Linked DNA regions of Homo sapiens. The protein of the gene in region 3 interacts with the protein of the main gene of each other region in a pairwise test. Each region holds a gene or a part of one and is shown on either strand. Other genes may lie near its edges. The genes, in order: ARHGEF7, EXOC1 and SRGAP1.

What was found.
Region 1: the proteins of SRGAP1 (region 3) and ARHGEF7 interact in binary tests that used the Homo sapiens proteins (3 or more experiments, as listed by UniProt).
Region 2: the proteins of SRGAP1 (region 3) and EXOC1 interact in a two-hybrid assay, tested with the Homo sapiens proteins (one large-scale study listed by IntAct).

Annotation. Positions count from the first base shown.
Region 1 is NC_000013.11:111,118,206-111,121,862, forward strand, and holds part of ARHGEF7 (rho guanine nucleotide exchange factor 7), read left to right. Parts: intron 1-3,657. UniProt on the Homo sapiens protein: Acts as a RAC1 guanine nucleotide exchange factor (GEF) and can induce membrane ruffling. Functions in cell migration, attachment and cell spreading. Promotes targeting of RAC1 to focal adhesions. May function as a positive regulator of apoptosis.
Region 2 is NC_000004.12:55,898,563-55,902,188, forward strand, and holds part of EXOC1 (exocyst complex component 1), read left to right. Parts: intron 1-1,122; coding exon 1,123-1,322; intron 1,323-2,272; exon of another isoform or gene 2,273-2,592; intron 2,593-3,626.
Region 3 is NC_000012.12:64,127,615-64,131,271, forward strand, and holds part of SRGAP1 (SLIT-ROBO Rho GTPase-activating protein 1), read left to right. Parts: coding exon 1-110; intron 111-246; coding exon 247-586; intron 587-2,559; exon of another isoform or gene 2,560-3,118; intron 3,119-3,657. UniProt on the Homo sapiens protein: GTPase-activating protein for RhoA and Cdc42 small GTPases. Together with CDC42 seems to be involved in the pathway mediating the repulsive signaling of Robo and Slit proteins in neuronal migration.

The DNA.
Region 1 (3,657 bases), on a different chromosome or scaffold from region 3:
CCATGCCCTAATGTGTTTCTTCCATTACGCTCATTTGTTCTGTTTCAGAGTTAGGAAGAGGGTGGAGGGAGCAGAGAGGACGTTCACGGCGTGTCAGATTCTTCTGCTCATTTAAAGGAAACTTTCCACCCAGGTTCCCGCTTTGCTTTTAAGGTGGAAGGTTAGACAGTGAGAAGATGGAATTATAAACTTTACATGAACAGTTCAGAAAAGAGACACTTTTCATTATACTGGACAGATGTTTTCTGCTGTAGGGGAGAGGAAAATGGGATTAAAAAGTTTTCGCCTTCTCTGTATCTGGAGATCCTGCACTTTGGTTTTCTCCAGGAGGGGTCAGGATGTTTGGCTGGGCTGCCCATGTCTTCGGCTTCCCACACTCCTCCCGTGAGCAGAGGTCATGACGTCTAGGGAGCCCTGGAAGCCCTTTTCTCACAAATTCACTTTAAACATCCCTAGGGTATTTAGTCAAAGGAGGTGAAATCAAGATACATGAATTGTAGAGGATGGAAAATTTCTATAAGACTAATACAACACATTAAAATCATGGAAATCATGAAATGCTCTTTTAATTTCACTTGTGAATGCAACAAATGAAGTCTCTTAACTCACTATAAAAAACTCAAGGAACTTGGTTCTTTCTCTGTGTGTCCCAGGAGAACAGAACACAGAGAACCTTCCTGTGTAATCCATGTGATGTGCTCCCGAGAACCCTGGCTAGGTGTTTGTGGAATGTAATTGAAAATCAGACGCTGCCTCGGGTCTTAGTGCTGGATGTGGAGGCATTTGTCTCTCAGCTCTGGAGGCCCAAAGTCTGGGATTAAGGTACCTGCAGGGCCTCGTGCCCTCAGAAGGCTCCAAGGAGGGGTCTGTCCCAGGCCACTCTCAGGCTTCTGGTAGTTCCTGGCTTGTGGCAACACAAGTCCAATCTTCACATGATGTCCGTGCTGTGGTTTCTTCTCTGTGTCCAAATTCCTCCTTTTTAGCAGGACATCAGTGGAATTGCATTAGGGGCACCCTACCCCAGTATGGCCTCATCTTAACCGATTACATCTGCATTAACTTCATTTCTGAATAAGGCCCCATCCTGAGATACTGGGGGTTAGGACTTCAAAATACGAATGCTGGAGGAGCACAGTTCAGCTCATGACAGGTTGTTTCTACATTTGAACCAGATCAGTTTATTAGCTATTGATCTGATTGCACAATGCCAGGTGCTAGGGGAGATTGCAAAACCTAAATAATAGAGTCTTGGGGGTTCCAGTACAGAAAATGTAACTCGAAAGACAAGAACAGCATGAGGCAGAAGGAAGTCAAGAGTCGTAATGTCAGATATGGATGAGAAGGAGCAAAAGAATCAAGGAGCTAAAAAGACCAGCATTTGAGCAGGTCAGACCCAAGACTTTGCTGACGTGTGGGTAAGAATATGGTTTGCATTTCCCAAACTGTAACCTGGCAGCCCTAGGTGATTTTCCACAGGCTTGCAGAAAATCAGCAAATCTGATGTTGCATAGGAAAAAAGGAAATACTTTTTTCTAGGTAAACTGGAGACTCACTTTCTGCTCAGTGTCAGGATTCTGGGGTTGGTTAGGGGCTGGGGTGAGGAGAAGCAGAAGTGCTCACCTGCTAGAAATGTGCCTTTTCTTAGGTCCTTTGGCCCTAAAAAGAACGTGATGAGTGATCACATGTGGTGGTAGGGTAAGGTTCTCACTCAGGCCCGTGACCTGTAGCCGTCATAAAGACTTGTTGATTGGCTAAGTCACTTATAGAGAAGTTATAATATGGTATCTCCAGACTGTGTTTTTAAGGAGACTTCTTTAAACCCTGCAAACTGAATAACTGGTTATATCAAGTTGCTTCTAACTAAACTACCCTGAATATGGTTCCAGAATAGTGAATTTTGCAATAATAAACATTTCCTTTTGAAGCATGTGACTTTATAGTCCTGTCTCAACCCTGAACCAGTGTGATTCTTGTTTGGGTTTCAGGCCTAGGGAAGAAGGTAGCTGGAACTGCATTTGCTGGCTCACTAAAAAGAAAGCAAACAAACTGAAATTCAATTTAAATCAGGAGTGCCTGAAGAGATTTCCTGAGAACCAGACTAGAAACTAGTGTTTATGTTGGCATCACACAGACACAGGAGAGCACACACACAAGCATACACACACGCATACATGCACACTTGCACATGCATGTGCACACACGAACTTATGCACACACGCATGCATGCCTGCACAAACATGCACATACGTAAACACATGCATGTAAATACACACACACACAGACACATGCGTGTACATAGACACGCACACACGCACACACAGACACGTCTGACGGGGGTTGAGGGAGTGGGGGAAGGAGTGCTGGCACATGTGGCATTCCATTTTCTCAGGGGCAGCTGCTCTGTGAACTCTCCAAGCCCAGTCCAAAGGATGCCATCTCAGGACCCGGCCCTCATTCTATTAATAGAAGTCACTCCAGAATCTGCCTGCTCGCCTCCTTTCTTTAGGCACTGCCTGCCTTTCTATACATCTTAAAAGAGAATAAGATGTCTGCCCAGCATGGCAGGCAGCATGCTCCTCTCGTTTGCAGGCGCTGTCCCTCGCAATACCCATACTGCAGATGAGGACCCTGAGGTCTGGCAGTTAGCTTTGCCCCAGGTCATCTGGCTGCACTCGGAGGCGGAAGATTCCAGCTCAAGACTGTGAGCTTTCTCATGGAAAACAAGACTGATTCTGCCACCTATACTGAACTTAGGGGAAGATTCGCAACCACTGCCTTCAGAAATTTACAAACCAGATCAGGAAAGGAGACGGAGGCAGCAGTGTAACTGAGCACCCAGGGGGGACAAAAGTGAGGACTGGAGGGGCTGGCTCAGGTCACCGGCCACAGGGGCAGAGTGGGAGCCCTCAGGAGTGCCTGGAGCCACTGCAGGTGTCTCACTTCTCGGGACATCTGGAAGCAGCTCTGCCCTTCAGTAGACAGACCCCAAAGGCACCCAGGGTAGGGCCCCTTGCCCTGGGGGAACCTGCAGAAGCTCCTGCAGAAGTCTGTGTCTGGGCCTTTCTCCCCGGCCGCAGAACGTGTGTTCCGTGTTCCTGTACCATCCAATAACTCACTGTAGTTTCTGGGCTTCCCTACTCTGTAGGGCTTACCAGATTTCCACTTAGTCCAAGATTTCAAACTGTGTGCATCTACACCACACACACTTTTAAAATTCAAGTACTATGTACACACGAACATCTCTCTCCCTTTAGAGGCCACTGATCACTCTAAAATGTAAAGAGTGGAGGCGATGGGGGCTGTGAGGTGAGTGGGGGCAGAGCCGTTTGTTCTTGTGTAGGGTGGATTTTAGCCGTTTGGATTGGAGTCTTGTGTAGGCTTGACGCCCACGCGTCTCTCACTGCACGAGGGAGGTGGCAGAGGCACATCATCCCTTTGGGCACGCAACTCTACCACGTGCATCGCTGGGAGATGGGAGGACTGGCATCCCCCGAACCCACGGGTCCCTGCCTGGAGACACTGGGAGACCCGGTCCTCTGCGTGCTTCAGAGTCAGGCACACCTGGCTTTGTTCCCGCAGCCATTTGCTCTGTGACTTCCGGCACCTGTCTAACCTCTCGGAGTCCTAGTTTCTTCCTCCTAAAAATGAGATGAATGA
Region 2 (3,626 bases), on a different chromosome or scaffold from region 3:
AAGAAGAAAGTAAAGATCATTTTTAATCTTGTTGTACAGAGATAATGTTAAATTTTTATTCTTCCAAACTTTTAAATTCCCTGTCCCTCTCTTCTATATATGGGCATATTGTATGTGTGCTTTCTTTAATATAAAAGTGTTGTCATACCTGACACACTATTTTTGAAGCTGCTGGACTCTATATAATCTTAGTATCTTTCTTAGTTAGTTAATATAGATAAACATAATCATTTTTAATGATTGCATAGTCATCCATATGTCATTATCCATTTACCAAATCTTCTATTAATAAACATTTAGGATTTTTTTAGTTTATCTATCTTTGTATACTTGTCAAATAATTTCTTTAGGGTAAATTACTAGAAATGGAATTACTGGGTCAAAGGATTTATGTATCTCAAGTCTTTTCCCAAATTGTGATACAGAAAGCTTATGTCAGTTTAGTGCTATGAGCAGTTGCATTACAGCTGTACCAATGCTGGGTTTTACTAGGTATTACCAATCTTTTTATTCTTTGTCAACCTGATAGGCTATAAATTATCTCACTATTTTATTTTGCATTTCATTGATTTTGTATATGGTGTCTTTACTTTACATGAATTTTCAAATTTTATCTCCAATTTATTTATCTTTCCCCTTAACAGTCTTCTAAATTTTGGGCCATTCTTAGCAAGGTCACACTATTGCAAAATTATTATTTTTCTATTAGTTATATTTTCTTTAGTACTTATGATTGTATTATTTGTTTGCTTTTTACATTTTAAATAATTTAGCAATTTAGAATTTGACTGCAAGATGTAAAGTAGGAACTTAAATTTCATATATTAAAATGGTCCAGCCGGTTGTCCTAACACATTTTGAATAATTCATCATTTCTCCATTGATCTGAAAAGCTACTTTTATTATATACTGAATTTCCATATACACATGGGACTGTTTTAGGATGACTTTTTATTATGATTAGGTAGATCTGAAGACTCCCATTACAATATATTGTATTAAGTCCAGAAATGTGCTTAATTCTTAAACTTACAAATGAAAAAAAATTAATAGTATAAATGTTTATAGCTAAATATGGTCATACTCAGAGATGTTATTTTATTTTTTCTGTTTTGGTTTTAGTGGAGAAAGTAGCAAATGAAAGCCAGAAGACCCCCAGGGATGTGGTTATGATGGAAAACTTTCACCATATTTTTGCAACTCTTTCTCGATTGAAAATCTCATGTCTAGAAGCAGAAAAAAAAGAAGCCAAACAAAAATACACAGATCACCTTCAGTCTTATGTCATTTACTCTTTAGGACAACCTCTTGAAAAACTAAATGTAAATATATTTTCATTCAGTATTTTTCCTACTTTTGAACCTATACACATAAGTTTGCATATGAATAACCTGCAGACATTTATCTTAAATTTTCTCATGTGTTGGTGCACAGGGGACTCAGTTATTGAAGCTGCCAGTGTGCCAGACACTGCTAGATGCTATATATTTTATTTCTTCTTTCTGTACATTATTTTTATACATTATTTATCTACTATATTTTAATGATAATTGTACTAGTATTCTATTATGCATTATTTCTTTTAATTCTTATAAACAATGATGTGTAAGCTAAGATAATATTATCCCCATTTCACAAATGAAGAAACTGAAAGTAAAAAAACTTGCCCGACATCATAATAGCTTATAAATTACAAAGCTGGGGGATGAACCTAGATTAGGCTTTGCCGTTACTCTTTCCCATTTCTTACTTTATAAATGACCAAGTTTACAATGTCTAGGTGGAAATTTCAAAAATATTATTAAGATAAAAGAAAAACCAAAAATTGCTTTCTACATTGCCTTTTACTTTTCTTTCCCTTCTTTTTTTTTCCTTACTTGAGTCATTTCCCAGAGTAAGTCTGTTAATTAAAGTTAAGAAATGATGATTTTAGGGAACTTTACAAGATAGTGAAAGCTTAAATGAACCTTTTAAACTAACTTTGTCTGCAATATAGTTATCTTTTATAAGCTCTTAACTTGAAGTTAGAGTAAAATAGCGCGGTGACTCACACCTGTAATCCCAGCACTTTGGGAGGCCAAGGCAGGCGGATCACGAGGTCAGAAGATCGAGACCATCCTAGCTAACAAGGTGAAACCCCGTCTTTACTAAAAATGTAAAAAAAAATTAACTGGGCGTGGTGGCACGCTCCTGTAGTCCTAGCTACTTGGGAGGCTGAGGCAGGAGAATCACTTGATCCTAGGAGGTGGTGGTTGCAATGAGTGGAGATCACACCACTGCGCTCCAGCCTGGGCGACAGAGCAAGACTCAGTCTCAAAACAAAACAAAAAAAAAGAATATGTATCTGCTGTCAACAATTCAAAGAAATACTTGAAAGACATTTAATCAAATGCAGAACTAATTCCTTATAAAACTTAAGAACAGACAAATATTCCTTTAACTGGATAAAAGATCTATCTCAGGCCTAAAGCTTACATGATACTTAACTGCAACGTTAGAGACATTCCCTCTGAAATCAATTTAAAGCAGAAATATTGTTAGATCCTTTATTATTTAGCATTGTTGTTGAAGCACTAGCCAGTTCAACAAGACCTGAAACATAAATAAGAGATATGGAAAACAGAGACGAGATTATCACCACCTGTATATGATATGTTGAAATTACTGGTGTTGGTCAAGTGACAAAATTTAAAGCAAATATACTGAAAAACAATGTATTTCCTGTCTACCAATTAAGAGCTTATGTAAAAACAAAATTTTTAAAGCACTAAGAATAACTTCTCAAAGAATGATAATTTAATGAATAATCACTAAGAAAATTTTAGAAAAAAGTAATGAGAGGGAATGGGGTTTGTCAGCATTAATTCTTTGTATCGTGCTCAAATACAGTTATGCCAGTCAATAAAAGTATATATATAAAAGAAGACCTGGGAATAATAGTTACAATAATATAACAGAGTCAGTATATTTAATATAAAAAATCTTACTAAAATCAATAAGAAAAGCACTAAGACCCCAATTTATAAATGGGGCAAGGGGCTGAATCACTACTAAACATATAAAAGCAGGTTAACCTTATTTATAGCCAAAGAATTATAAAATAAAATGACAAACTTTTTTTACTCTGGCAACTATTGTTATAAATTGTCATAATGCTTATGATGGTATAGTGAAGTAGCAACCTCATACACTGTTGACAGAAATATAAATTGGTTGAGCTTTCCTAGGAAGCAGTTTGTATATATACTGAAGAATCTTTCAAATACTTAAAGTTATGCTCTTCAACAGAGTAATTATAGTCCTGGAAATTTAATCAGTAAGATGGGTAAATACTTATATACAAAAAAAATTTATGACAAATATATTTATAGTAGATTTTCTAAAGTCTCACTAGATTTGCCAAGTCCAAAAAAAGAAGGGGGAGTGGGATGTTAAATATCTAGTACTAGAGGAATGAATAATAATTGTGGTTCAGTCATTGTGTGAAATATTATGCAGCCATTAAAATTTATATTTAGGAAAAAACAATATTAAATGTAAAGTGGGACATGAAATTTTAATCTCCTGTATGTATTCACACATCAAAAGATTACAAGGAACTCTACAATATTAACAATGTTCATCTC
Region 3 (3,657 bases):
AGCCAAAAAGCCGACAGTGAGGCCAGCAGTGGGCCAGTCACGGAAGACAAGTCCTCATCCAAGGACATGAACTCCCCGACAGACCGTCATCCTGACGGCTATTTAGCCAGGTAAGTAGAGCCTGGGAATCAGGCCCCTAAGCCTCCGCTCCTCCTGGGGCCATGAGGAGCCACTGCACCTCAGCCTTGCAGTACTGCCCGGTGTGATAAGCTCTTCTGTTTTCTCCCTGTTTCTGTGAATGTCTAGGCAACGAAAAAGAGGAGAGCCACCCCCTCCAGTAAGGCGTCCTGGCAGGACCAGTGATGGCCATTGCCCGCTCCACCCTCCACATGCCCTTTCTAACTCCTCAGTTGACCTAGGGTCCCCAAGCCTTGCCAGTCACCCCCGGGGCCTGCTGCAGAACCGTGGCCTCAACAATGACAGTCCTGAGCGGAGGCGCAGGCCTGGCCATGGCAGCCTGACCAACATCAGCCGGCACGACTCCCTCAAGAAGATCGACAGCCCTCCCATTAGAAGGTCCACGTCATCAGGGCAATACACGGGCTTCAATGACCACAAGCCACTGGACCCAGAGACAATTGCTCAGGTACGATGCTTTTAATTACATATTGCATTTTAAGTACCTAAGTGTGATGTAGGAGGTGTGAAAGATTTACTTTATTTACTTTTTACTTTATTTACTTTATATTTCTGTATAGAACCAACTAAAGAAAACAGAAACAAAACCAGCTCATTCTTTAACTTAGGCCCTGAGTCTTTTTTGAACAATTTGTTACTGAAAGGGCCCAAAGGTTCATAGTGATTTAAACAGAAACATGACAAAAACGTAGGACCAGGACACTCAAACCTATCATTGTGAATAGCCAGAAAAACTTTGAAAAAGAAGAATGGGAAAGCAGTGGCCCTGCCAGATCCTAAATGCATTCTAAAGCTAGTAAAACAGACAGATGGATGAAACAGAATGGAGAGCCCAGAAACAGAAAAACCTTAAAACAGTAGTCCCTCCTTATCTGCAGGGCATATGTTTCAAGACCCCCAGTGGATGCCTGAAGCCACAGATAGTGCAAACCCCTACTGTATATGATAAAGATGGCACTTTCAACTTAGAAAAGATGAGACCTAATAAATAATGTGATCAATAATAGATAGATATTTGAAGAACAAGTCTGGATCCTATGTACCTCCTGAACACATTCAGGTCTTTGCTTCCCAACAGTGACTGCAGAGGGGCTGTGTAGTTTTCTTCTAATGACTAAAATTGACCAAGTAAAAGGGAAACAATACTAATAAATTTGCCCATCATTCTACCATTTTTCCCTCTGGTTCTGGCTCTTTTCACAGCACAGGCCATGAGAACATATGTTCGTAGGCCTAGTGGGTGGCTTACACCTGTAATCCCAACACTTTAGGAGGCTGAGGCAAGAAGATAGCTTGAGGTTAGGAGTTTGAGACAAGCCTGGTCAATATAGCAAAATCCCGTGTCTAAAAAAAAAAATTTTTTTTTAATTACCTAGGTATATTAGGATTCTCTAGAGGGACAGAATTAATGGAATATATATACATATAAAGGGGAGTTTATTAAGTATTAACTCACACAATCACAGAGTCCCACAATAGGCCATCTGCAGGCTGAGGAGCAAGGAGAGCCAGTCCAAGTTCCAAAACTGAAGAACTTGGAGTCTGATGTTCAAGGGCAGGAAGCATACAGCACGGGAGGAAGACGTAGGCTGGGAGGCTAGGCCAGTCTAACCTTTTCATGTTTTTCTGCCTGCTTTATGTTCACTGGCAGTTAATTAGATGGTGCCCATCCAGATTAAGGGTGGGTCTGCCTTCCCCAGCCCACTGACTCAAATGTTAATTTCCTCTGGCAACCCCCTCACAGACACACCCAGGAGTAACACTTTGCATCCTTCAATCCAATCAAGTTGACACTCAGTATTAACCATCACAAGTCTACCCCTTGTCAACTTGAACCCATAAACATCTCCTGAGATCGTACATAATCTTCAAATAAAAACAATAATGTCATAATTACGCCTAACATGATACAACTGTCCTTTCCTATAACCGGAAACACACCAATCCCCAACCCAAATGCTATTACATAAAGTTAACAATACTTAAATGCTGATAGGAAGTCAATATAATCTTATGTCACATGCTAAAGGAAAAAGGAAATAAAATGAAGATATTTTCCTAGTACAAGTGTATACATGCACAAACATGTTTTTAACGAAAGAAGGAAATACTCATGACAATTACAGTCCCTGTTTCCACGTGGTCATAGCTGGTATTGATGACTACCTTCTACTACCCATTCCGTATTCCCTTTGCCTTCAGCAAGCACCTCAGCAGGTCGTGGTTGTTGTTGTTGTTGTTGTTGTTGTTGTTGTTTTCCTGGCGGAGTGACCCAAACCTTCATTCCTGAAGGGTCTGGGCCATTTGTAGTCCTGCCTGGATTGGGCTATTGTAGTTTCCCATTGACCTTAATCACAGAGCGTGGTAATACTAAGAAACGCCCTAATGGATCTCCTGTATTCCATGCACACTCTTTTTTACCTGCATCGTGGAGTAGTCGACTGATTTCATCTTGATAGTCTGAGTCAGTCACCTTAGCCAACACTGTAACTCCCTTCTTAGTCTGTTGCCTTAAAGGTAGGAGGAGCCCAAAGTGTCCAGGTGGCAATCTTAACTCAATGGCATTGTTGCTGTGTCTCCTGGTGGCACATTCCTCCCTCTGGAACTGAGACCTCTAGGCCAGCAGAACATAATGTCGCGGGAACAGGAAGTAAAAATGTTGCTAGGGGGTCACTAGGGATAATGATGAATGGTGCCACTTCCACTTCCACCTCTTGATTCCTGGACCCGTGAATCCTGGCTATGGGAGAAACTGCACCATGTATTGGACACAGATTCAGAGCATACACAGCCTTCTGGGGAACTTTGCCCCAGCCCTGCAAAGTATTGTCACCTAGTTGGTGTTGCAATTGTGACATCACAAGACCAATCCACCATTCTGTCAATCCAGCTGCTTCAGGATGATAGGGAGCATGGTAAGACCCATGAATTCCATGAGCATGAGCCCACTGCCACTCTTCTTTAGCCATAAAGTAAGTGCCTTGGTCAGAGGTAATGCTGTGTGGAATACCATCATGGTGGATAAGGCATTCCATGAGTCACAGATGGTAGTCTTGGCAGAAGCATTGTGTGCAGGATAGGCAAACCCATATCCGGAGTAACTGTCTATTCCAGTGAGGACAAACCTCTGCCCTTTTCATGATGGAAGAGGTCCAGTGTAATCAACCTGCCACCAGGTAGCTGGCTGATCACCCTGAGGAATGGTGCCATATCGAGGGCTGTGTTGGCTTCTGCTGCTGGCAAATTGAGCACTAAGCAGTGGCCATAGCCAGGTCAGCCTTGGTGAGTGGAAGTCCATGTTGCTGAGCCCATGAGTAACCTCCATCCCTGCCACTATGGCCACTTTGTTCATGGGCCCATTGAGCAAGAACAGGGGTGGCTGGGGAAAGAGGCTGAATGGTGTCCACAGAATGGCTCATCCTATCCACTTGATTATCAAAATCCTCCTCTGCTGAGGTCACCCGTTGGTGAGTACTCACATGGTATACAAATATCTTCACAGTTTTTGACCACTCAGAG